Homo sapiens: one gene and its partners. The protein of the gene in region 1 purifies or fractionates together with the protein of each later gene. This does not show direct contact. Each region holds a gene or a part of one and is shown on either strand. Other genes may lie near its edges.

The links.
Region 2: the proteins of SAA1 (region 1) and PLEKHG3 purify together in Homo sapiens (affinity purification with mass spectrometry; one large-scale study listed by BioGRID and IntAct). This does not show direct contact.
Region 3: the proteins of SAA1 (region 1) and PDIA5 purify together in Homo sapiens (affinity purification with mass spectrometry; one large-scale study listed by BioGRID and IntAct). This does not show direct contact.
Region 4: the proteins of SAA1 (region 1) and SAFB purify together in Homo sapiens (affinity purification with mass spectrometry; one large-scale study listed by BioGRID and IntAct). This does not show direct contact.
Region 5: the proteins of SAA1 (region 1) and CWC25 purify together in Homo sapiens (affinity purification with mass spectrometry; one large-scale study listed by BioGRID and IntAct). This does not show direct contact.
Region 6: the proteins of SAA1 (region 1) and SAFB2 purify together in Homo sapiens (affinity purification with mass spectrometry; one large-scale study listed by BioGRID and IntAct). This does not show direct contact.
Region 7: the proteins of SAA1 (region 1) and PHF3 purify together in Homo sapiens (affinity purification with mass spectrometry; one large-scale study listed by BioGRID and IntAct). This does not show direct contact.

What each region holds. Positions count from the first base shown.
Region 1 is NC_000011.10:18,265,127-18,269,063, forward strand, and holds the start of SAA1 (serum amyloid A-1 protein preproprotein), read left to right. Parts: upstream 1-1,137; 5' UTR 1,138-1,170; exon of another isoform or gene 1,171-1,317; intron 1,318-1,757; 5' UTR 1,758-1,761; coding exon 1,762-1,852; intron 1,853-3,937. UniProt on the Homo sapiens protein: Major acute phase protein.
Region 2 is NC_000014.9:64,735,424-64,738,923, reverse strand, and holds part of PLEKHG3 (pleckstrin homology domain-containing family G member 3), read right to left. Parts: intron 2,072-3,500; coding exon 2,033-2,071; intron 1,569-2,032; coding exon 1,549-1,568; intron 183-1,548; coding exon 69-182; intron 1-68. UniProt on the Homo sapiens protein: Plays a role in controlling cell polarity and cell motility by selectively binding newly polymerized actin and activating RAC1 and CDC42 to enhance local actin polymerization.
Region 3 is NC_000003.12:123,140,025-123,143,524, forward strand, and holds part of PDIA5 (protein disulfide-isomerase A5 precursor), read left to right. Parts: intron 1-3,500.
Region 4 is NC_000019.10:5,626,083-5,629,582, forward strand, and holds part of SAFB (scaffold attachment factor B1), read left to right. Parts: intron 1-322; coding exon 323-407; intron 408-3,500. UniProt on the Homo sapiens protein: Binds to scaffold/matrix attachment region (S/MAR) DNA and forms a molecular assembly point to allow the formation of a 'transcriptosomal' complex (consisting of SR proteins and RNA polymerase II) coupling transcription and RNA processing.
Region 5 is NC_000017.11:38,804,822-38,808,321, reverse strand, and holds part of CWC25 (pre-mRNA-splicing factor CWC25 homolog), read left to right. Parts: intron 1-1,345; coding exon 1,346-1,557; intron 1,558-1,926; coding exon 1,927-2,025; intron 2,026-3,500. UniProt on the Homo sapiens protein: Involved in pre-mRNA splicing as component of the spliceosome.
Region 6 is NC_000019.10:5,589,138-5,591,776, reverse strand, and holds part of SAFB2 (scaffold attachment factor B2), read left to right. Parts: coding exon 1-29; intron 30-1,368; coding exon 1,369-1,499; intron 1,500-2,639. UniProt on the Homo sapiens protein: Binds to scaffold/matrix attachment region (S/MAR) DNA. Can function as an estrogen receptor corepressor and can also inhibit cell proliferation.
Region 7 is NC_000006.12:63,722,802-63,726,511, forward strand, and holds the end of PHF3 (PHD finger protein 3), read left to right. Parts: 3' UTR 1-3,210; downstream 3,211-3,710.

The DNA of each region.
Region 1 (3,937 bases):
GAGGAAGGAAGGAGGAAGAGAGAAGAAGGAAGGAGGAAGACAGAGAGGGAGTAAGGAAGGAAGGAAGGAGAAAGAGAGAGGAAGGAAGAAATGAAGGAAGGAAGGAAAGAAAGAAAAAATAAAAGAGTGAAAACGGACTGGAGAAGAAGAAACCACAGTTGCTGCTATATCCACCAGCCTCTCTGCATGTCCTGGCCTCAGCCCTGCTGGGCTCTGGTACTGACCACTTCCTTCCTTCCTAATTTCCTAATTGACTAGGCCAGCTGAGCAGGGCTTTTCTGTGCTGAGGAGGTAAATCTCTGGATATCTAGACTGAGGGGTGGAAGGAGCCTTCCAGGGCACACATGAGACATGGCAGGGGTAGGCTGCTAGTTTTATTTTGTTTTCTTTTAGACACAGGGTCTTGCTCTGTTAACCAGGCTGGAGTGCAGTGGCGTGATTATAGCTCACTGCAGCCTTGACCTCCTGGGTCTCCCACAATCCTTCCGCTTCAGCCTCTTGAGTAGCTGGGACTGCAGGTGCACACTACCACACCCGGTCCATTTATTTTTATATTTCGTAGAGACAAGATCTTACAGTTTTGCACAGAGTGATCTTAAACTCTTGACCCCAAGTGATCCTCCTGCCTTGGCCTCCAAAAGCATTGGGATTATAGGAGTGAGCCACTGTGCTGGACCTAGTCTGTCAGCTTTGAAGCTTTAGATATGAACTCAGAGGGACTTCATTTCAGAGGCATCTGCCATGTGGCCCAGCAGAGCCCATCCTGAGGAAATGACTGGTAGAGTCAGGAGCTGGCTTCAAAGCTGCCCTCACTTCACACCTTCCAGCAGCCCAGGTGCCGCCATCACGGGGCTCCCACTCTCAACTCCGCAGCCTCAGCCCCCTCAATGCTGAGGAGCAGAGCTGGTCTCCTGCCCTGACAGCTGCCAGGCACATCTTGTTCCCTCAGGTTGCACAACTGGGATAAATGACCCGGGATGAAGAAACCACTGGCATCCAGGAACTTGTCTTAGACCGTTTTGTAGGGGAAATGACCTGCAGGGACTTTCCCCAGGGACCACATCCAGCTTTTCTTCGCTCCCAAGAAACCAGCAGGGAAGGCTCAGTATAAATAGCAGCCACCGCTCCCTGGCAGGCAGGGACCCGCAGCTCAGCTACAGCACAGATCAGGTGAGGAGCACACCAAGGAGTGATTTTTAAAACTTACTCTGTTTTCTCTTTCCCAACAAGATTATCATTTCCTTTAAAAAAAATAGTTATCCTGGGGCATACAGCCATACCATTCTGAAGGTGTCTTATCTCCTCTGATCTAGAGAGGTAAGCAGGGTCGGGCCTGGTAGTACTTGGATGGGAGAACACCTGGGAATACCAGGTGCTAAAGGCTTTAAGAATAAAAAATAATGATCCTGCTTTGTGTTTATCCCATGTTGAGTTCTGTGCGGGGCAGAGGGAACACACGGTAAATGCGTTATGGGGAATTATAGGCTACTTGAGGGAGTGACAGTCTGGTGGTAACTCCTGCCTTCCTCCATCAGTGCCACGTTGGCATCCTCTTATGCAGTCAGGCTTCAGGGCTGATGGGTTCAGAACCGAGGGCTTCTGGCTCTGAGTGAGGTCCTGCTGCAAGGTTTCCTAGATGAGCCACTGAGACTCTAATAAGATCCAGTGGAAATAACCAGGCTCTCGTCGGAATATAAGTCCCAAGGGAAGCTGTGCCAGTCTTGTGGGCGACTGCCTGACTTCTCCTTTCATTTCAGCACCATGAAGCTTCTCACGGGCCTGGTTTTCTGCTCCTTGGTCCTGGGTGTCAGCAGCCGAAGCTTCTTTTCGTTCCTTGGCGAGGCTTTTGATGGTAAGGCTTCAGAAGGTTTGCAGGATTTCTGAAGAGAAACATCACCCTGGACCTGATAAACTGGGGAAAATGATGCTTTCGGAAGGCTGCTTTTGAACCACAGAGTTGCTAGTGTCTGCGTTGCTGAGGCCTGCCAGGAACTAGGGTTTGCTGGGTTGCCTGTCTCGAGTCTTTCAGAGCTGCTGGGAATATCCCCTTTCCCCGTAGTGCAGCTTCTCAGGATGTGTTAAGTGGATGGATCACATTTCAGAAGCCGCTGCAAGGTGTATCAAAAACACATCTCCTGAGCCGTAAGGGACGGGGCATCCAGTAACAACGCACACGGGGTATTTTTGGGCTTCCTTAAGATTTGAGCCGCTGCCTTAGGTTGTGCTGCCCAATGTGCCTGGGGAGCTGCTAAACAGATTAGAGAGTCGAGGATTGTTGTCAGTTACTCAGAGAAAGAACAATCATCCTTTCCAGGAGCACCTGAGCTGTTTGTTTTGCGTAGAAGATGCAAAATAAGGCCTGCAATGGGTATAAAATGTCCCTCAGCATAAATCGCATAGGAGTATGACTAAGGCTGTTGACTCTTCTGTCTTCTTTCTCCTTCCTCCTTCGATTTCCTAGTTGGATAATGTACAGGGCTCTTTAGCCTCGCTCTGTCAGGGGCTCCCTTCCTGGTTTGTTCTGTTTCCATTCTTCCTTCTCCAGCCTTCTTGACAAGAGCTGGGAACTAACGTGCCTCAAGCCCCCACAAGGACCACAGCATTTTCTCATTTAGTTTCAGAATGACTCTGTGACGCAATCTTCCTCTCTTGGAAGGTGAGAAAGCTGATCTTGGAAGGTGAGAAAGCTGAGACTTAGAGCAGCTGAAGCCAATGCCCAGGGACTTACTGCCAGTCAGCAGGTGGCAGGGCAGAGGTTTGAGCCCGGCTGTGCTTGAGGTCAGGGCTCTTGCCAGGTAGACGCATCACTGACCACCTCCTAGAGGTTGATGGTTATGAATCTCAGGCACACCTTGGCATCACCTGAAATACCCATGCCTTCAACTCCCCAGCAGAGTCTGCAGAAACTGGCCTGGGGTGTGGCCTGGGCACTGGGACTTTCAGTTTCTCTCTGGGTGATTAGAAAGTGCAGCCAAGGCTCACGCCTGTAATTCCAGCACTTTGGGAGGCCAAGGTGGATGAATCACTTGAGGTCATGAGTTCCGGAGCAGCCTGGCCAACATGGTGAAACCCCGTCTCTACTAAAAATACTAAAATGTAGCCAGGCGTGGTGGCAGGCACCTGTAATCCCAGCTACTCAGGAGGCTGAAGCACGAGAATCACTTGAACCCGAGAAGCAGAGGTTGCAGTGACTAGAGATCGCACCAGTGTCCTCCAACCTGGGTGACAGAGCGAGACTCCATCTAAAAAAAATGAAAAAGAAAGTGCAGCCAAGGCAGAGCACCACTGCCCTATTGCTTCCTCAAGCAACCCACAGCATCAGTACAGCCTACTAAGAAAGTATTTAGGGACTTTTATGCTCCTAACAGTCACTGGAACTCACGTCACAATGACGTGTATTCCATTTGCAAGAATATATACTTTAGGTCGGGGTGCGGTGGCTCACGCCTGTAATCCCAGCACTTTGGGAGGCCAAGGCAGGGGGATCACGAGGTCAGGAGTTCGAGACCAGCCTGACCAACATGGTGAAATCCCCGTCTCTACTAAAAATACAAAAATTAGCCAGGCGTGATGGCGCATGCCTGTAATCTCAGCTACTCAGGAGGCTGAGGCAGAAGAATCTCTTGAACCTGGGAGGTGGAGGTTGCGATGAGCTGAGATAGCACCACTGCACTCCAGCCTGGGCGACAGAGCAAGACTCTGTCTAAAAAAAAAAAAAAAAAAAAAAAAAAAAAAAAGAATATAAACTTTAGTAGTCAGGGCAGAAGTACTCTGTGTCTGCCACCTTTCTCAGCATCAGTATTCCATGTCACTACCTCATTCATACACACTCCTGGATCTTATCATAGGCAGCTTCATTCTATAGCAGTGGCTCTTCACCAGGGCACTTGAAGAAGCCAACTAGGATAAAGGAATGTGCTTCTCAACCCATGGTATC
Region 2 (3,500 bases), on another chromosome or scaffold:
TTTGCAGACTTGAAAATCTGGACTCCAAGTTCTTCCTACTATCCCCATCCCACCTGCTGGTCGCTCACCTCTGGCAGGGAAGAAATGGACTCGAAGCTCATGCGCTTCTCAGTACTGGTTGGAGACCGGCCACTGGGCCTTCTGCTGCTCCTGGAGCTTTCAGACTCCCTGCGCCCCTTTCCCTGCAGAGGTAGAGGTCAGTCATCAACTCCAAGACAACTGGAAGCTGATCCCTTCTGCATCCCAACACGGGCAGTGCCTCCCACGCCCCAAGGGGCTGGGCTGAGCTGAGAGCCAGTCTTGGACCTGAGCCATTCCAGAGCCAACCTGAACTGCCAGGCCTGGGGCTGCGGAAAGCCTTGTCAGGCATGCAGCTTCAAAAAACCTCAGCCCACCTTTCTGTCCCTCCAAAGTGGACTTGACCTTTCCAGCCCCACTGTGTGCTAGCTTCTCCCTGCCCCCACCACCCCACCCCACTTGTCATGCTTGTTGGGCGTTATATTGATTAGTGCCCAGTACTGGAACAGAGCATGCCAGGGGCTCACCAGGGTGTGACAGCGAGCGATGGTGTTAAGTGCTGAGGGGAGGAGTAAAACCAGGGCAGGGTGGGGTGAGGAGGGCAGCAGAGGGGGCCCTCGGGTGGGCATGCACATCCCAGGGAGCATGCAAGGAGGAGGGGAGATCGAAGAGACACCTCACCATAGCGCCCCGGGAGAAAAGTAAAGCGTTGGCCCGATAGTGCCAGCAGTGGAGGGCGGCCAGCAGGGAGCTGGCAAAGTCGGCTACCTGCTCCGCCACCGCCAGGCTCTCCTCCTGCTCCTCCTCCTCCTCCTCTGAGCCTGGGGGCTCCGGCCCAGCCCCCTTCTCGTTGCCTTCATGCCCTGTCAGGTCCTCCAGAGAGACCTGAAAGGCCTGCTCTTCCTCCTCCTCCTCCTCCTCCTCCTCCACCACCTCCTCCTCTTCCTCTTCCTCCTCCTGGGTAGCCCCTTCAGCCTCTGGCTGCAGGCCCCGAGTACGGGAGGGCTGCCCAAAGTCCAGGAGGGTTCCAGCACTGCCTGCATGCTGTTCAGAGCACAAGACCCCCTCGTGACCAGCCTCTTGGGCAACCTCCCGTCCTCCTGCAGGCAGCTGCGGGGGGGGAGCCTTCACACAGAAAGCCACACCTAGATGCCCAACTCAGGTTGCCACTGGGGTCCAGGGAGGGGTGGGCATTCTCATGGTGGAAAGGCTGGGACCTGGTCAAAACTTCAGAACCCAAACAGGCCTGCCTACTTGTCTACCCTAGGGAGAGGGAAATCTGAGTAGGTCCACACTGGGCAGGCCCCCAGCAGGGTGCTGTTCTAGGCAGAGGGTGCAGAAGGGCCCCCAGGGCAAGGCCCATGTCTTATTCATCTCTGTGGCCCTAAGCCACACAGCCTGGTACACAGTGGGTGCTTAGTAGGCATTTGTTGAATGAATGAAGACAATGAGGGCTGAAGGGGCCGGGGGCTGACCTGGGCAGTCCCACCCTCCTCTGTCAGCCAGTCCCCTCCTCCCACTGGCCTTTACCTTCATTCCTGCTGCTCGGGCTGCAGACATCACCACCGGGTCCCCCAGCACACGGGCGAGGGGCAGGGGAGGGGAGGGGAAGAGATCAGTAAGCAGGAAAAAGACCTCTGGACAGCTCCCTGGGGAAGTCCTCACTGGGGGCTCCTGCTCCCAGAACCCTCACCTAGTCTCCTGGGCTTTCAAAAGAATGACTGACAGAGCAGGGGCCCAGGGGCCACAGAGCAGCGCAGGTCTGTGCCTGTTGCTCGGCTCTCATTGTTTCCGGAGGAAAGGGCATGAGGCCTGTGCATGGGGGAGAGCTCCAGCCCCTCTCCTCAGCCAGCCAGGGGCGAGGCCCTCTTCTGGGGGGAATGGAGGCAGAGTTCCCTCTACACTATTCTGACAATCCTCCACCCTCAGGTCACACCCCAGGTTGTCGGCTGCTTCCCCTCCTCCCTCCTCCTCCCCCGCTCACTGGGAATGGCTGGCCACCTCACACACTCACCTTTCTCGTTGAGTTGCCTGAGCAGGTGTTTGGTTGGCTCTGAGGAGGAAAGCATGAGCAGAGTCAGCGCGGGCCAGGAAACTGCTGTGCCTGGCTGGGTCCCAAGCTCACAGCGCCACCAGCCCATCACCAGCTCAAAGTCCACTCTGGCTTGGCCCCCTGCAGTCATAGGCCCCAGGGAAGCTGCCTTCCACAGTGTCGGCGAGCCCCCTTGCACCTACGGACAGGGAGGCGGGCCCATCCATCTCCAGGACCCCCGCTGTGACTACCAGCCCTGCCGGAGCAGTACCACCCATGATGCAATGCATTAGGGCACCTGGCCCAGGGCCCTCGCGCAGGAGCCATAGGGAGGGGACTCAGTTCCATGCTACCCCCTTCAGACCAACTAGCAACATCTCCGGAGGTCCCTGGCTCCACCTCAAGCCCCTTGCCTCCCTGGCAATGAGCATATCAGCGCATCAGCTACACCCACTGCCAAGCCCCTCACAGCATCCCAGCTGGAAAGCAGAGGTCGCACCCGACTTTCTACGGCCCTTAAGGCTGGGCATCACGAAGCCTCGCTGACCGCTGGGGAGAGTTGCCCGGCTGTACGGAGAGTGACCAGGCTCTGGGGACAGGATACAAAACACATCCATTAGGCCAATGGTGTCATCACCGTGTACCCCAGCCTTTTTGAGGATACACCTGAGACTGGAGGGCAGGAATAAGAGGACCTTGTCTCAAGGTCCAGTTCTACAGAGCCTCGGCCTTCGCCTATCCATATCCTTGCCCAGCTGGCGGTAAGTGGGAGGCCCAGGGATCGCCATGATTTGCTACACACCTGGAGTCAGAAGGAAAGTCTACCAAGGTATCTTGCTGTTCCTCAGCAGGCAGGCCTGTTGAAGAACCTCTTTTCTGCTGACACACACAACATACATACACTATCTGTATCAATGTAAGTAAATGCCTAATTGTTTTTAAAGTGAAAAGTAGAAAATGTTCTATTCTTTCATTTTAAAACTTATCAAGAATATTTAATAAGTGAGACATAATTTAAATTAAACAATAGAACTTAATTATCAATAGAATACACTTGTCAGCTCATCTCAGCTCTCTGAGTGGGAAGCAGAAGCAGAAAAAACCTCAAGGAAGTCAGAGTAGATGGCTGAGCCCAGGCAGTAAAGTGCCTGCATGTGGCCCAAGTCCCTCCCTAGTGACTTTCCTGATCTTTTTGTGGTCTACAGTTCCCACAAGTTCAACAGATTGATTTCTTTTTTTGTTTTGTTTTGTTTTGTTTTTTTGCAACAAGGTCTCATCTGTCAGCCAGGCTGGGTGGGTGCAGGGGCACGATATCCATTCACTGCAACCTCTGCCTTCCAGGCTCAAGTGATCCTCCCACCTCAGCCTCCAGAGTAGCTAGGACTATAGGTGCACACCACCATGCCTAGCTAACTTTTTAATTTTGTAGAGATGAGGCCTCACTGTGTTG
Region 3 (3,500 bases), on another chromosome or scaffold:
TTGGGATAGGTGGTCAGGGAGGGTCTCCTAGAAGGTGAAATTTGAGTGGAAGCCTGAGTGGCTGATGTAAAGAGGGGTAAGCCGCATACAGACCTGGGGGAAGATGTTGGTATGTATGCTCCAGGTGGGTAGGAAAGAACATGTTCCAGGGCCCTGGGGTAGAAATGAACTTGGTGTGTTGGGAGAAGAGGAGAGCCAGAGGCTGCAGTAGAAGTGACCTGAGTTGAGGTTGAAGGTAGGCAGGACTCAGCTTGTGTGGGGTCTGTAGCCATAATAAGTTTGGATTTGAATCTACCTGTGATAGGAAGCCACTGTAAAGTTTTAAGCAAAGGGATCTGATCTGATTGATGTTTTGAAAATATACCCCGGCTGCCCTTAAATATCAGAAGACAGCAATATCACAGTCACAAAGCAACACAAAATTAAATGCCATAGAAATATCTGAATAAGAAGTATTTTGTAATTAGAAGAGAGACAGATCATTCGATGGGGCTACAGTGAACTGGGAAGACTCAAAGCAGGGGCCAGAACAAAGGTAGGATTGCGAGGGGTTGTCCAGGGTGGATGTTGCCTATCCATCAGAGCAGGGGCTGGGAGGAAGAGGTGGCAGGTGGTGATGGCCCTGGGGGATTTGTCACTTCGTCTTCCAGAGCTACAATTTCTGGCACTGTAAAACGGACCTACTGAGCTGTGTCATGTGTCTGGTGGGGCTGCTGCGATAGAGTGTGGAAGCCCAGCACAGACAGCGAGTGCTTTCCTTATAGAGGTGGGGAATTCTGGGAGCTGAGGCCAAAGCCCAGGAGACAGCCATGTGTGCGAGCTGCGGAAACTGGAGGTCTCCTGGTATTGACCCCAGCTGGCTTCCCATGCCTGTGGCAGACGTTGCAAGTTGGTCACAGCTCCTCTTCCCAGTGAGCGAGTTCTCAGACTCAGCCTCTGTCTCAGGCCCACCGCTGATGGAAGCTGGCAGGTGGAATGAAACCCACTTGCCACCCTGGCAGGGCAGTGGCATCAAAGGCCTGGAGCCTGATAAAGGGATGAAGTAAACCTCCCTACCAGCACACAGTGAATTCTCATCTTCAGGAGTCCTGCCACATCAACAGGGTCACTTTAGAAAGCAACAGTGATTCTCAGTGAATGGCAATGGCTGGCTTTTCTTTGTCTTCCCTCCCCTGATTCCTACTCCAGTCCCACTGTCCATCTTGACCATGGGCCCTGCCAGCAGCTGGCCTAACAGCACCATCCATATCATGGAGGGTATGGGGAGAGTGGTCAAGGGAGCCTCTCTTTCCTGCCTCTCCCACCTCCCTGGAGGCCACCCAGGGCCTCATGCCTGCATTTCCCGAGGCCTCCCAGTGTGTCCTCCACTATGTGCTGCTGGGCTGAGTCAGTCTGTCTCAGGGCAGTGGACCTTTGGGGACTTTGCATGGACCACTCACATCTCTCCAGAGCAGGTTGAACTCTCGGGCGATAGACTCACCGCCACAGGAGAGTCTCTGAGCTTCCTTCTCCTGCAGTTTGTTCATGCAGGGTGAGCCCCCTCACTCTGCCCCAGTCAGGGGAGGTCAGCCTGAAAGCAGGAGAGTGGGGGGCTCACCTTGGACAGGTGCAGGGAGCAGCAGCTTGGGGTTGCCCCCGGGGCAGGGAGATCCCTTTAAGAGCTGTAGAACTTTTTCATCCTGACCGTGGCCCCAAAGGATGGTTTACTCCACTCTATTTTAGTGAGAAGCAAAAAAATAATTTTTTAATCTTAATATACCTCATATTAAGTCAGTAGAACCTTCTGCAGATTATTCCATTTACTCCTGACATGTGGGCCAGTGTGGAAAGACATCTAAGCCTGGGCCCCTGTGCATCAGCTCTCCGTGTTCTTCCGCTTTGCCTCCCATTGGACAGTGATTGGCTTGGAGTCCGGTGGTCTCCTTTGTCCTGGGCTCCTAACCCCAGTTCTGTGAGCAAGTTCAGGTAGTCCAGGATCCCTCTGGAATTGTACATACATGTGGAGTATATGCATCAGTGTGGGGAAGGGGAGGAGAGGCTTTTGTGACAATCTCAAGAATGTCAGTGCCTGGGAGGCACAGACTCCTGCCCCAGCTCTCCCTGGTCCCTCTTGGAGTTCTTCCTCTCACTGCTGAGGTGGGGGTCGCTGCCTAGAGGGAGCGGCCTGCCTGCTGTCCCCACTGGATCGCGGGCTGCACTTGTCCCATTGGGAGCAGGCTCAGGGAAATACAAATAGCACTGCGTGCTTTTATGTTTCAGGTGCATCCTATTAAATGGGCTTTTGCGGTTGCCCCTGGGAATCTGCATGTAATCGGTGTGTAAAATTGTTTCTGAGGGGAAAACAAACAGCCAACTTACCAAAACAACCCTTTTGTGACTGGATTATTTAGGTAACACATGGCTCATGATGATGCTAAATGTTCATTTCTGGAAAGTGATATTCTTGTCATTCAAAATAATGATGACCTTGATACCTCTACAGCTTATGATGGGGGGATCCCAAGTGGGGTCTAGTCAGACCGTGAACTCCCAAAGTCATCTAACCCTATGTGCATTTTTCTGGAAGAAGGGTTTACCACTTTGATCATGATCTCCACAATGTCTGACTGCAGGGGACATTAAGAATATCTGCTGTGGAGAACAAGGCCAGGAACAGCCAGGCTGTCTTGCCCAGCCCAGGGGCAGCCTCTGGGGGGGCCGAGCTCAGCAGTCCCAGAGGAGCCCTTAGGAGCACTTTTGGGGCTATGTGCCTTGCTCAGCCCTGGCAGCGGAATTCTGCACTGCTGAATTGAGCATGGGGACGTCCTCATTTCTCTGAGGCTGCCCCTGCCCTCCTGACTGGGTCCTCTGTCCTCTGTCTCTAACTTGCCCACATGTGTCCTTTCATCTGCCACCTCCAGGAGGTCTTCTCAAGCCCCTGGTCAACCCAGGAGTTGTCTACTAATTATTTAATTAGGTCTCTTCATTGCTGACCAGTAAATATTTATCATGTATCTATTAAATGGTGATCCTTTTGCTTCATGGGGAGGTACAAGGTAAAAAAAAACCTCAGGTCCCACCTTTAGAGAGTCACCATCTGGGGCTGGGCATGGTGGCTCACACCTGTAATCTCAGCACTTTGGGAGGCCAAGGTGGGTGGATCACAGGTCAGGAGATCGAGACCATCCTGGCTAACACAGTGAAACCCCATCTCTACTAAAAATACAAAAAATTAGCTGGGCGTGGTGGCACATGCCTGTAGTCCCAGCTACTCGGGAGGCTGAGGCAGGGGAATCACTTGAACCCAGGAGGCGGAGGTTGCAGTGAGCTGACATCGTGTGCCACTGTACTCCAGCCTGGGTGACAGAGCGAGACTCCATCTCAAAAAAAAAAAAAAAAAAGAGAGGCACTGTCTGGTACCTAGAGCCCAGCATGATGAGTGTGTAGTGTGGGTACAATATGTAATAGGGCTACAAGCAGCTGCCGGCTCCCCTGGGGCTGCCAGGGCAGGTGGAGTGCTC
Region 4 (3,500 bases), on another chromosome or scaffold:
TTTTCATGGCTAGTAGAGTCCTCACAACAGCCTTCCAGGGTAAGTACTGTATTATTATTAGCCGCATGTTCCAGAGGAAGAAGCAAAAACTGAGCACCTAAGTAAACCTGCCTGGGACCACCCAGCTAAGAACTGGTGGCGTCAGTCGGTCTCCAGTGTAGAGCGAGATAACAGATGAGTGGATGGGCCACAGGTCCTGGGTGGTGAGGGCGGCAGCAGCTTTTTGATCTTAAAAATACAGTTTCCTTGTCACCTGAGAGCTCTCTGAAAGCAGTGTGTGAGCTGACTTTTTGGATCAACTTTACTTTTCCCTTCTTTTTAGGCAATTGAAGATGAAGGTGGTAATCCTGACGAAATTGAAATTACCTCCGAGGGAAACAAGAAAACATCAAAGAGGTCTAGCAAAGGTATGGAGGATTTCATAAGCAAGTTTCATGTTAAGTGCTTTCTTCAAAACGAATACATTGCTAATGTGCCTCGTTTACTTGTCTGTGTGTTGGACTTGTGAACCACTCTGAACTGGGAGCCTTCAGCGAAGCTTTGCATTTTCTTTCAAGATCTCTCTACTGTGTTTTGTTTTCTTGGTATCTGGGAATTCCAATGGAGGATGGAAGGAGTATTTGTCCTTTATTCATTTTCCTCTGTAGATTGTCAGCGGTCCTTAAATAAGGAGTCTTTTGGGAGTCAGTCACAGTGGCGTGTGCCTGTAATTCCAGGCGACTCGGGGCTGTGGTAGGAGGATCACATGAGCCTGGGAGTTCAAGACCAGCCTGGGCAACATAGCAAAACCCAGCTCTACAAAAAAACTTTTAAAGGCCCGGTGTGGTGGCATGCATCTGTGGTCCCAGCTGCTTGGGAGGCTGAACCGGAAGGATTACTTGACCCCAGGAGGTTGAGATCAGCTTGGGCAACATAGGGAGACCCCCATCCCCACCAAAAAGAAATTAGCCAGGCATGATGGCATGCACCTGTGATCCCAGCTACTTGGGAGTTTTAGGAGGGGGATCACTTGAGCCCAGGAGCTCAAGCCTGCAATGACCTAATGATTGCACCACTGCACTCCAGCCTGGGTGACAGAGCAAGACCCAGTCTCTCTTAAAAAAAAGGGGGGTGGGGGCGGGGCACAGTGTCTCTCACCTGTAATCCCAACACTTTGGGAACCCAAGGCAGGAGAATGGTTTCAGTCTAGGAGTTTGAGACCAGCCTGGGCTGCCTCTATCCACTGCCAAAAAAAAAAAGTACCTAGGCGTCGAGGCACGCCTGTTTTCCTAGCTACTTGGGAGGCTAAGGCGGGAGGATCATTTGAACCCAGGAGTTCAGGGTTGCACTGAGCTATCATGGCACCACTGAACTCCAACATGGAGTCCAAAAAGTAGGACTGCCTGAGCCTCCTATTGCTTGGACTTGGAGAAAATAACATCCCTTATAAACAGCACTTGGCAAAAACAGAATTGTCACTTTAACATTTCTTTTAAAAGCAGCTTATACAGTAAAAGTCACATTCCACATGACATGACTCTCACCATCTTACCGAAATCTCTCTTGCCCATCCCCCACACCCTGTGCTTTAGTCAGGCCCCAAACACGTGATTTACTCTCCTGGTTCTCTGTGACTTCGCTCCGCCCACCCTTCCCCATCTGTCTGCCTTAGAGACCTAGTTCCTCAAAAGACAACTGATCCATCCCACCAATAGCAACTCGTCTCCTTGGGTCCTCTGTCCTCCCGTGGCATAGTTCCTTACCCCTTGGTTTAATATTTATGTCATCTTGCCTTCTGTCAAGAGCAGATTGATGAGGACTAGGGCTGTGTCTTGTTTATCTTTCTTTCCCCTTCAATGGTTTAACTTGGTAACACTCAACTATTGGCTTAAGAAAGAATCAGCTGAGGCAGGGCGCCGTGGCTCACACCTGTAATGCCAGCACTTTGGGAGGTTGAGGCGGACTGGTCACCTGAGGTCAGGAGTTCGAGACCAGCCTGGCCAACATGATGAAACCCCGTCTCTACTAAAAATATAAAAATTAGCCAGGTGTGGTGGCGGGCTCCTGTAATCCCAGCTACTCAGGAGGCTGAGGCAGGAGAATTGCCTGAACCCAGGAGGTGGAGGTTGCACTGAGCCCAGATCGCACCACTGCACTCCAGCCTGGGCGACCGCAAGACTCCATCCCCCTAAAAAAAAGAATCAGCTGAAGCTGGGCTTGTAGACCGAATGTTCTCTTGGTTCATGTAGAGTTTTCCCTATCTGAAATGCTTGGGACCAGAAGGGTTTCATTTTTTGGATTTTGTGCGGTATTTTCGTACGCATAATGAGATAATCTTGGGATTGGGGCCCAAATCTAAACAAGAAATTTGTTTCTTATACACCTGAAGATAATTTAATACCATATTTTTTATAATTTTGTGCATGAAACAAAACTTTCACTAATTCCACACATCAGGTGTGGAATTTTCTACTTGTGGCAATATGTCAGTGCTCAGAAGGTTTCAGTTTCAGATAGGGTTGCCCAACCTGTAATTGAAGGCCTGGTTCTCAGGGCCCAAAACTAAATGAGATAATAACTAATACTTGGTGGTGAAGTACTGGGTTTAAATATCTGAGAGTCAGGCCCCAGTGTCAGCCACAGTGTTTGGGGTAAGTGCTGGGAGAACAGCAGAATGAAGTCACTTCTGTGGCTCATGATACATTGCGTGTTTTTGCCTTTACTCAAGTATACTTCTGCCAAGGCAAAGAGTCCTGGAAAATCAATGGAGAAAGAAATAATAAAAGCAAAAAACAGAGCCTGTGGATCTCCTTTTTTGTTTTCCTTTTTCTTCTGATAAAAGCAAATACTTGTACTACAGGCTTTTGTTGCTGTTTTTGTTTTGTTTTTGAGGTGGGTTCTCACTCTGTCACTCAGATGGAGGGTAGTCGCGCAGTCATAGTTCGCTGCAGCCTTGAACTCCTGGCCTCAAGCAGTGCTTTCACCTCAGCCCCACAAAACGTTTAGATTTCAGTTGTGAGCCACTGCGCCCGGCAGGTTTTAAAATACGTGCATGGGAGTAAAAAGCAGAAGTTGTTCACAGTCGGGACAGCCCACTACTAAAAGTTAGGCATACTTCTCCAGACTGTGTGTGTATGTACAATGTTTAAAAGTAAACTTAGGCCTGGGTTACAGAGCAAGACCCTGTGTCTAGAAAAACAAAAAGTTAAATAAAAGTCAATGAGCTGGGCATGGTGGCACACACCTGTAGTCCCAGCTACTAGGGAGGCCAAGGTAGGAGGATTGCTTAAGCCCAAGAGGTCAAGGCTGCGGTGAGCCATGAGTGTGCTTCTACACTCCAGCTTGGGCACAGAGTGAGAGGGGGAAAAAAGTAAATATATAGGTATGTGCACACACCTGTATGCATATTTTTTTCATTAAAAAAACCCGTGATCTTGCTATACAAAATCTCACTGTTTTTTAACAGGCTAATAATCTTCTGTATGAATAAATACACAATTTAGCCCATCAGTCTTTTTATT
Region 5 (3,500 bases), on another chromosome or scaffold:
CAACCTCTGCCTCCTGCATTCAAGTGATTCTCCTGTCTCAGCCTCTTGAGCAGCTGGGACTACGGGCACCCACCACCACACCCGGCTAATTTTTGTATTTTTAGTAGAGAGGGGTTTGACCATATTGGCCAGGCTGGTCTCGAACTCCCGACCTTGTGATCTGCCCGTCTTGGCCTCCCAAAGTGCTGGGATTACAGGCGTGAGCCACTGCACCCAGCCAAGCCAGGTATATTCTTTTCTTTTCTTTTCTTTTTTTTTTTTTTTTTGAGATGGAGTCTCACTCTGTCGCCTAGGCTGGAATGCAGTGGCGCCATCTCGGCTCACTGCAAGCTCTGCCTCCTGGGTTCATGCCATTCTCCTGCCTCAGCTTCCCAAGTAGCTGGGACTACAGGTGCCCACCATGCCCAGCTAATTATTTTGTATTTTTAGTAGAGACAGTGTTTCACCATGTTAGCTAGGATGGTCTTGATCTCCTGGCCTCGTGATCTGCCTGCCTCAGCCTCCCAAAGTGCTGGGATTACAGGCATGAGCCACAGCACCCAGCCATCTTTTTTTTTTTTTTTTTTGAGACAGGGTCTTTCTCTCTCATCCAAGCTGGAGTGCAGTGGTGTGATCCTGGCTCACTGCTGTCTTGACCTCTTAGGCTCAAGGGATCCTTCTGCCTCAACCTCCTGAGTAGCTGGGACTACAGGCGTGTGCTGCCACACCGAGCTAATTTTTAAATATTTTGTAGAGACAAGGTCTCACTAGTTGCTCTGGGTGGTATCAAACTCTTGATCTCAGGCAGTCCTCCTGCCTCCGTCTCCCAAAGTGTTGGGATTCAAGGTGTGAGCGACTGCACCTGGCTGACCGAAGGAGATTCTTTTAGGGGATTCTGCAGATAACTAAGTTTATACAGTTCTCTGTGATAATTCTATGTGATGATATTGGTGTGCTCAGTGAGCTCCTTATGTAACATTTCCTGTTTCACTGCCTTTTCTTTTTTTTTTTTTTTTTTTTGAGACGGAGTCTCGCTCTGTCATCCAGGCTGGAGTGCAGTGGTGCGATCTCAGCTCACTGCAACCTCCACCTCCTGAGTTCAAGCAATTCTCCTGCCTCAGCCTTCTGAGTAGCTGGGATTACAGGTGCCCACCACCACGCCCAGCTAATTTTTTAATTTTCAGTAGAGACAGGGTTTCACCATGTTGGCCAGGCTGGTCTCGAACTCCTGACCTCAGGTGATCCCCCCCGCCTCGGCCTCCCAAAGTGCTGGGATTACAGGCGTGAGCCACTGAGCCCGGCCGCGTTTTCTCCTGAATAGCTGGATTTTCCATGTGAATAACTTCTCTTTTCCTTAATGATGTAGGTCCGGAACTCTGACCGTAACCAGGGTCTTCAGGGTCCTCTGACAGCAGAGCAAAAGAGAGGGCATGGGATGAAGAACCATTCCAGATCCAGAAGCTCCTCCCACTCACCCCCAAGACATGCCAGCAAGAAGAGCACCAGGGAAGCAGGGTCCCGGGACAGGAGGTCTCGATCCCTGGGCAGAAGGTCACGGTCCCCAAGACCCAGCAAACTGTGAGTGTGGGATTCACTGGGAAATAACCTGTGACTGTGGGGGCCTGGTCCCAGCAGGCATTTGTTTTTGCTTTTGGTGATGTCCGTCCATTGACTTTCCCAAATGTCTTTGCTTTGGTATTTCCTTTACATCATTTTTTTTTTCCACCTCAATGTAAAGCTCAGGCATCCAAAGCCACATATCTGTAGGTGTATTCTGTGCTTTGGGAGCTCTGGGGTGAGTCTAACATCAAACCCTATACCTTTGTTTTTCTCACACTTAGATTATACCTCTAAGACCATTAGCTCATCTTGCATTGTTTGAGGGATTCAGTGTAAGCCCCTGGACCAAAAAGGCTTTTTCCTCTTTGCCTTCTGTGTCTGCTACAGGCACAACTCTAAGGTGAACAGGAGAGAGACAGGCCAAACTAGGAGCCCATCACCTAAAAAAGAGGTCTACCAAAGGCGACATGCTCCCGGATACACCAGGTGAGTCAGGAGCCCAGTTGATTAACCACATTTTGCAGGCCTGAATCTAGAAGGGGCTCAAACCATGGCAAATGGATAATCCATCATTACCTTTTCGACGAACCAACTTTTATTTATCTTGCCAACCTGTAAGGGTCTGCGTCCCCTGCCTCCAGCCATGTGAGGACATTGAAAGGACGAGGTAAGGCTGGGCGTGGTGGCTCACGCCTGTAATCACAGCAGTTTGGGAGGCTGAGGTGGGTGGATCACCTGAGGTCAGGAGGTCGAGACCATCCTAACCAACACGGTGAAACCCCATCTCTACTAAAAATATAAAATTAGTTGGTCATGGTGGCACATGCCTGTAATCCCAGTTATTTGGGAGGCTGAGACAGGAGAACTGCTTGAACCCAGGGGTTGGAGGTTACAGTGAGCTGAGATCTCACCACTGCACAGCAGCCCAGGCGACAGTGCAAGACTTTGTCTCAAAAAAAAAAAAAAGTCTCTTAACAAAAACCAAGCCAGACACAGCAGTCCATGCTTGTAATCTCAGCGCTTTGGGAGGCTAAGGCAGGGAGGATCACTTAAGGTCAAGGGATTAAGGTTGCAGTGAGCTACGATCAAGCCACTGCATTCTTGCTTGGGCGACAGAGCGAGACCCTCTCTTAAATTAAACCCTCTTTAAAAAACCCCTCAATTATTCTCTCTGGGTGTGGTGGCTCATACCTGTAATCCCAGCAGTTTGAGAGTCCAAGGCAGGAGGATCGCTTGAGGCCAGGAGTTCCAGACCAGTCTGAGCAACATAATAAGACACTATCTCTACAAAAAATTATTTTAAAAACATTTAAAAAAACAAAAGCTAGTAGTTCTTTGCCCTGCCTGATCCCACTTTTAGTCATGCTACCCAAAGGCAACTACTTTCAGCTTTTTCAGTAGTTTCTTTTCATAGCTACATATTCCTAAAAATACAAATATGTTGCTGCCTCTTCATCCATTAATTTTAGATATTAGATATTTTCTTTTTTCTTTCTTTGTTTTTTTTGGAGACAGCATCTTGTTGTATCTCCCAGGCTGGAGTGCAGTGCCACAATCTTGGCTCACTACAACCTCTGCCTCCGGGGTTCAAGTGATTCTCCTGTCCCAGCCTCCCGAGTAGCTGGGACTACAGGCACATGTTGTCACGCCCAGCTAATTTTTTTTTTTTTTTTCTGAGATGGAGTTTCATTCTTGTTGCCCAGGCTGGAGTGCAATGGCCCAATCTCGGCTCACCACAACTTCCGCCTCCTGGGCCCAAGTGATTCTCCTGCCTCAGCCTCCTAGGTAGCTGGGATTACAGGCATGTGCCACCACACCCAGCTAATTTTTGTATTTTTAGTAGAGACAGGCTTTCTCCATGTTGGTCAGGCTGGTCTCGAACTCCCAACCTCAGGTGATCTGCCTGCCTCGGCCTCCCAGAGTGCTGGGATTACAGGCGTGAGCCACCACGCCCGGGCTTC
Region 6 (2,639 bases), on another chromosome or scaffold:
CAATGATGGGAGACCACCGGGATGGGCAGGTGAGTAGAGCCCCGATGCCAAGCCCTGGGGCCACTGTACTGCTGTGCAGGCATAGCGGACCATTTCTAGCCAGGCGGCCGCTTGATCCCAGAGAGGTGGCAACCAAGTCAGCACGTGTGGCGGGTATGCAAGTGTGGGTTCTGGCCAGCGACTAGAAGTACAAATATTTAGTCGGACGTGGTGGCTCATGCCTGTAATCCCAGCACTTTGGGAAGCTGAGGTGGGTGGATCACAAGGTCAGGAGTTCAAGACCAGCCTGGCCGACATGGTGAAACCCTGTCTCTACTAAAAATACAAAAAATTAGCCAGGCATGGTGGCGAGTGCCTGTAGTCCCAGCTACTCGGGAGGCTGAGGCAGGAGAATCGCTTGAACCCGGGAGGCGGAGGTTGCAGTGAGTCGAGGTCGCACCATTGCACTCCAGCCTGGGCAACAAGAGCAAGACTCCGTCTCAAAAAAAAAAAAAAAAAAAAAAAGCGCAAATATTTGATTGTTTTGTAATGCTCAAGTTTCTGTCATTTTCAAATATGTTGGGCTTGTTCTTCATTGTATCCGGTAGAAACCTCATGTGTCTCTTCATTGTCCACTTGCTCAGGGAGCCTTTGGGTCTTAGTGCCTGTGGGGTCCCCCAAGAACCCAAATGGTGGTTGTCGTTTAGCCCACATGTGCCAGGGTCGGGGGGATGGGGGAGCCCGGGCTTCCCCATGTTTCAAGTCCGTGCTTGGTGGGCACGGGGGGCTGAAGACCACAAGAATGGTCCCTGAGTCTCTGTGGTGCCATGCGGGTGCCCCGTGCGTGGTGGCAGGGTGTGAGTTCTGAGAAAGCAGCAGCCTGGTGGAGAGGTGGGAGGTGGGCGGCAGAGTAATGGCCTGTAACAGCAGGCAGCACCCGCCTGCTTCCTGGCTGCTGGCTGCTCCGTGCAGAGTTGGTTGGCCAGGGAGGCCGGAATTGTGGCCCTGCCAGAGCACAGGGGGGCTGACCCACCCGAGGGCCCTCCTGTTATCGGAAAGGAGGCGGCGCCCAACTTCTCAGGGAAGACAGGGTTTGGTGACGTCTTAGTGGATCTTGAGCAGAGCTGTTGAGGGCAGTAATGCCAGGGTGCCCTGGCTCCTGGGGCAGCTCAGGTGGGGCAGTGATGCAGCTGTAGGGGTGCGAGGAGGGGAGCCAGGGAGCAGAGGGTCAGTGAAGCAGGGCCCAGCAGGGCTGAGACTGCACCCTTCAGTCCTCTCTCAGCTCCGCCCCACCTGCCACCCTGGGGCCTGCAGTGGACAGGCCTTCCGGAAGGTGGGCCTATGTGGGTGACATGGTCAGTGTCACCCTGTTCCTCTCCTGCCTTCCAGCACTATGGAGATGACCGCCATGGCCACGGAGGACCCCCAGAGCGCCACGGCCGGGACTCCCGTGATGGCTGGGGGGGCTACGGCTCCGACAAGAGGCTGAGTGAAGGCCGGGGGCTGCCCCCTCCCCCCAGGTTAGTGGGTGAGCCCCAGCCGGGTGGGGAGCATCTGTCCTAACCTGGGAAAAGGTTGGTGCCTGGCCAGGCACGTCCCCAAGGTTTGATTCAGCTAGGGGAGCTTTAGGATGGGCTACCAGGGGTCCTGCCATTTGAAACCCCTGACTCAGAAAGTCCAGGTTCTCAAGAAGAAAGCATAGAACAGGCTTTCAGGGATGGAGCTGTCCAGGTCGCCCAGAATGGCCCATCCCCATTCTTGAGCTGGGGGTCGCCTGCAGTTGTGAATGTCTCGATCATGGGCTGCGTACACACTGGGAGAGACAGCGCTGAAGCTCTTAGTCCTGCCCCGTCCGTGGTAGAGCAGCCTCGCCCCTGCCTCCACGTTGCCTCTTGACACGTGTCTTCCTCGGGTTTTTTCTCTGACCCCCAGTTGGTCTGGGGTGGATCTTCTCAACCCTATCCTGCCTATTAGAATCACTTAGGAGGACCCTCCACCCAGGACTCAGGGCTGAGGACACTGGGCCAGGTCCTCCACAGGTGTCCAAAGCCACCTTCACCAGCACTGCAGTGGGGGTGCTGTTCTGAGCCTTGTCAGCATTGGTGGGGGGCAGGGCTTGTCTGGGAGGACTCTGGGTGCCTCTCTAGTTTCTTTGGCCAGCTGCAGTCACCCCTGCCTGTTTGTCCTGTTGCCGTCTGGGCTGGCCGTGAGGAGGCTGGTGGCAGGACTGCTTTGCGGCTGCTGCCCTGCTTTCCTCTGTGAGCCGAGTGTCCTGTCTTGTCTCCAGCCCTGGCCCAGGGCTGCCTCGGACCCTGCCCAGCGCCACAGGGTGGGTTTTGGCCCCCTGTGCTCCCCCGTTCCATCCCTCCCTCCGCGCTGAGAGGCACTTCCAGCTCTGCCAGGGACTTTGACTCGGTGCTGTGCCGAGTGTCCCAGGACACCCGAAGCTTCTCCTGAATCTCTGGGCAGCACAGACGGTGGCAGTGCTCTGATCAGTTGGTGTGAAGTGTTCTCTCCTGTGAGACTTCATTAGCATTCCTGTCCTGTCGCTTGCTGGGTGTTATGGTAAATACCTCGGGAGTGTAAACGGGAAACTCACCCATGGTGAGCAGCGGCTGGGCGCCATCGGGTCACCGAGGGCAGGTTCCACACGGGAGCTT
Region 7 (3,710 bases), on another chromosome or scaffold:
GGTCTATACCAAGCCATTCTAGACTGGTTGGAATGTTTGGCAGCTCTATAGTTCTTCACCTATCAAACTACGTTCTCTAGCTTTATTTTCCTCATAGGGAATTTTTAGTGAGTATACTATGTCGTTACATATGTGATATTTGGTTAACAGCTGCTTTATCCACTAGGTTGTAAGCTTTATGAGAACAGGGTCTGTGTTTGGTTTGGTCCAACAGTTGATTCCCAGCACCCAAAACGGTATCTGGCCCATAAATAGATGCTAAATAATTATTAAATAAAGAAATACGTTTGTAGGGTTGTGGGTTGAGATGACTCAGAATATTTCTCAAATAATAGTTTTAGCTTGAAAGCAAAAACTTTTTTCCTATAATGACATGAAAATTGTTTTAAAAATTCATAACAAAGAAACTCAGTTTATTTGCATAATTTCTAACATGTATAGCATTTTTAACTATAAGGAAAGAGAAGCAACATTATAAACTTTCAGATTAGGAAAGAAAAAATATACATTGGGTTATACCACCAAAAACTGGAACAAGTAAACATAATTGATAATTAAGTTCAAAAAATTTATAGCAACCTAAATATACTTTGTGGCCTGCAAGTGAACACAAACCAGTTATCTTTTGCAAGATTATGGAGGAAGCTTTTCTTGCTCCTTGTGTTGTAGAGTGTTCCTGTAGTAAACAATTTTATAGTGAAGAGCTACATTAGAATAAAAAATATCTAAGAAATGATTAGGAAAGCTGAAGCTGTGATCTATACTATCACTGGTCATGTTGCCAACCAGAAGAAAGAGCAAGGATAGCTTCTGCGAAGAAAGGATTATTTTAACTCAGCTAGTATGTTCTTACGAAAAATTGACAAAAAGTTTTCTTTCTGTGGCTATGGAAGCTAAAAGCTGTATTAGCTTAAAAAATCATAGACTTTTAAATTTCATTGCGTTAGGATATGATGCTCTAGTTATGGGTCATAAGTACACATTGGCATTATTATTATTATTATTATTATTATTATTATTATTATTATTATTATTTTGAGACCAGAGTCCTGCTCTGTCCCCCAAGCTGGAGTGCAATGGTGCAATCTCGGCTCACTGCAACCTCCATCTCCCGGGCTGCCTCAGTTTCCCGAGTATCTGGGACTACAGGCACTGGCCATCACGGCCGGCTAATTTTTGTATTTTGGGTAGAGCGAGGTTTTACCATGTTGGCCAGGCTGGTCTTGACCTCCTGACTTCAGGTGATCCGCCCACCTCGGCCTCCCAAAGTGGTGGGATTACAGGCATATGCCACTGCACCTGGCCTTGGATTCGCATTAGAGTAAGAAAATGTAATGAACAGTCCTTACAAGAAACAGAGCTCAAATAGGATAAAGATCATAAATGAATTCACTTTGGCTATTTAATGCCCACTCAACCATGGCTGAGGCTTCTCCCACCTTTGTTCTGCTATTGTTTCTACCTCATCATCTGCTATCCCACCGTGCTTTATTATAGATAAGAGAAACCTTGTAGGACCTAATATTTGTGAAGAGACTACAGAATCAGCATATCAGGGGAATTGTATATACATTTTTTTCTGTAGAAAAGGAAAGCAATGGTAATTTAAACTTATTTATATATTTTTAATATAGTTTAATTATTTGAGTATGTTTTAACTTCACATTGCAATGACTAGGCCTTTTTATACACGTTGGGAGGATTATAACTATATCAGATGAATTCAGGCTTTGATTAATTTGTGCTTAACAAAATGTTGATAATTTTTATATATCAAAAATCTTTTAAAGGTGTTAAATTTTTAGCAGAAATAGATGAAAAGGGACCAGAGTCTTATTTCTTTAAAATATCTTTCAAAAATCAGAGATCTGAGATCATCTAGTATAATTTTCAAGTTATCATTTTGTTTTAAATTTTACACTACTTGAGAGTACTCAAATTATTAACCTCTAAAGAGATACAGAAACCATGTTAATTTAGAATTTGGTTTTCAATATGTGAAAACCACATTGGCTGCTTTTATTAAAATTTTTGGATTTTAACTTTGTGTATTGTTTGGTTAGTTTTTACTAATAGGTCCTCTTAGCAGAGGATCAACTATGAAGACTTGGTTAATGTTTACATCAGGCACAGTTCTTAGAGAAGGTACAAAGTACAGGACTGTCAGCTGCATTTTCTGCAACCTTAAATAAATGAGAGACTTCAAATAAACTTGTTATATCACTTGATTACTAAAAAATAAGTTTATGCCTTTCATCTGATAATTGTTTTTGGTTAATCTAGGTTTAAGCATGTAGAACTTATATTTTTAATATTTAAAAATTTTCATGATTTTCTTATATAAGTGTCAAATGCAGCATCAATCGTGTGAAACTAATGAATCTCTGTAAGTAGTGTCTGATGGCATAAAAAAGGAAACTCTTGATTGTCTTGAACTACATGCATTGAATAACAGATGTAAGAAGATGTGCTCTTGCCCTCCTATGTGTATTAGTGTGTATGAGCTTTATATTTCATATACACAAACAAATATGTATCGTTGTACTGATTATAAAACTGTAGTACAATATTCCCAGCCAGTCACAATCCTGAATATACCTTGATTTTCTGCCCTCTTACATAGGTCCCACTTAACATTAATTTTGAGTTTTATTAGCAATATAACTGAAGCTGATTGTCTTTTAATGTCTCTTGATTTATAAATAGAAAATTTATGTTTGTATGTGGTTCTCCTATTTGACATTTTCACAGGGAGATTTAATCATGAATTTAAAACCAAATATCTCAGGAGAACAAATTTCTTCTGAGCTGTATTTTATAGCTCAATTGTACTTTTTCTCTTTGAAATTATTTTGAGGGTATTTCAGAAGTGCATTGAGGTGGAACCACTTTGGTCGAATTCCCTGATATTCTTATCATTTAGAAGCAAGTCAAGACACTTCTATAAGAACTACTTAGATTATGATCATTAGAGCACCATTTTTGCTAATGATGTGAAATTTAGCAAATGTAATTATTTCTCAATATCAAAATTGTTTCTCATTTTCTGAGAGACAAGATCAAAGAAAGTCAAATGTAAGATTTTAAAAATACTTAGCAATAGAGATGTAACTATATGTGCAGATGTCTTTGTCAGAATTTTGGAGAAATGAATGAAAATGGATATCAAGGGTAAAGTAAAACCTAAAAAATTAAATTTTAAAACACTAATTGGATACTTTATTTCATATTTTATGATAAATATGTACCTTTTAAAATCCTAAAATGTTTTTGTAAGCATTTCAGAACACAAATCCTGGGTTTACTGTTTGGATGACAGAACAACTTAAAGAGAATTTTTGGAGCTATAAATGTGGTTGAATCTACAGGAAATGTATCAGCCATGCCTTCCTTTTAAAAAATCTTTTATATGCATATTTTGTCTCCTTTGACATAGTACTATCGTGCATGGCTTTAATGTCTTTTTTGATGGTATTGTTTTTAAGTTGAGCATATACTATATTTAGATTTTGCAAACTTTAATTCCAACAAATCTGTTGCTATTTTATTAGAATATCTAGGGCTTCTAAATTCATACGCATACACTTGCAGTGACAATAGAACATAAAAGCATCAAATGTTTACATATTTAAATACTAGGTGACACAAACACTATCATACATTACTTAATAGACTATTAGGAATTCATTCTGCAAACAAACAGCCTGCCA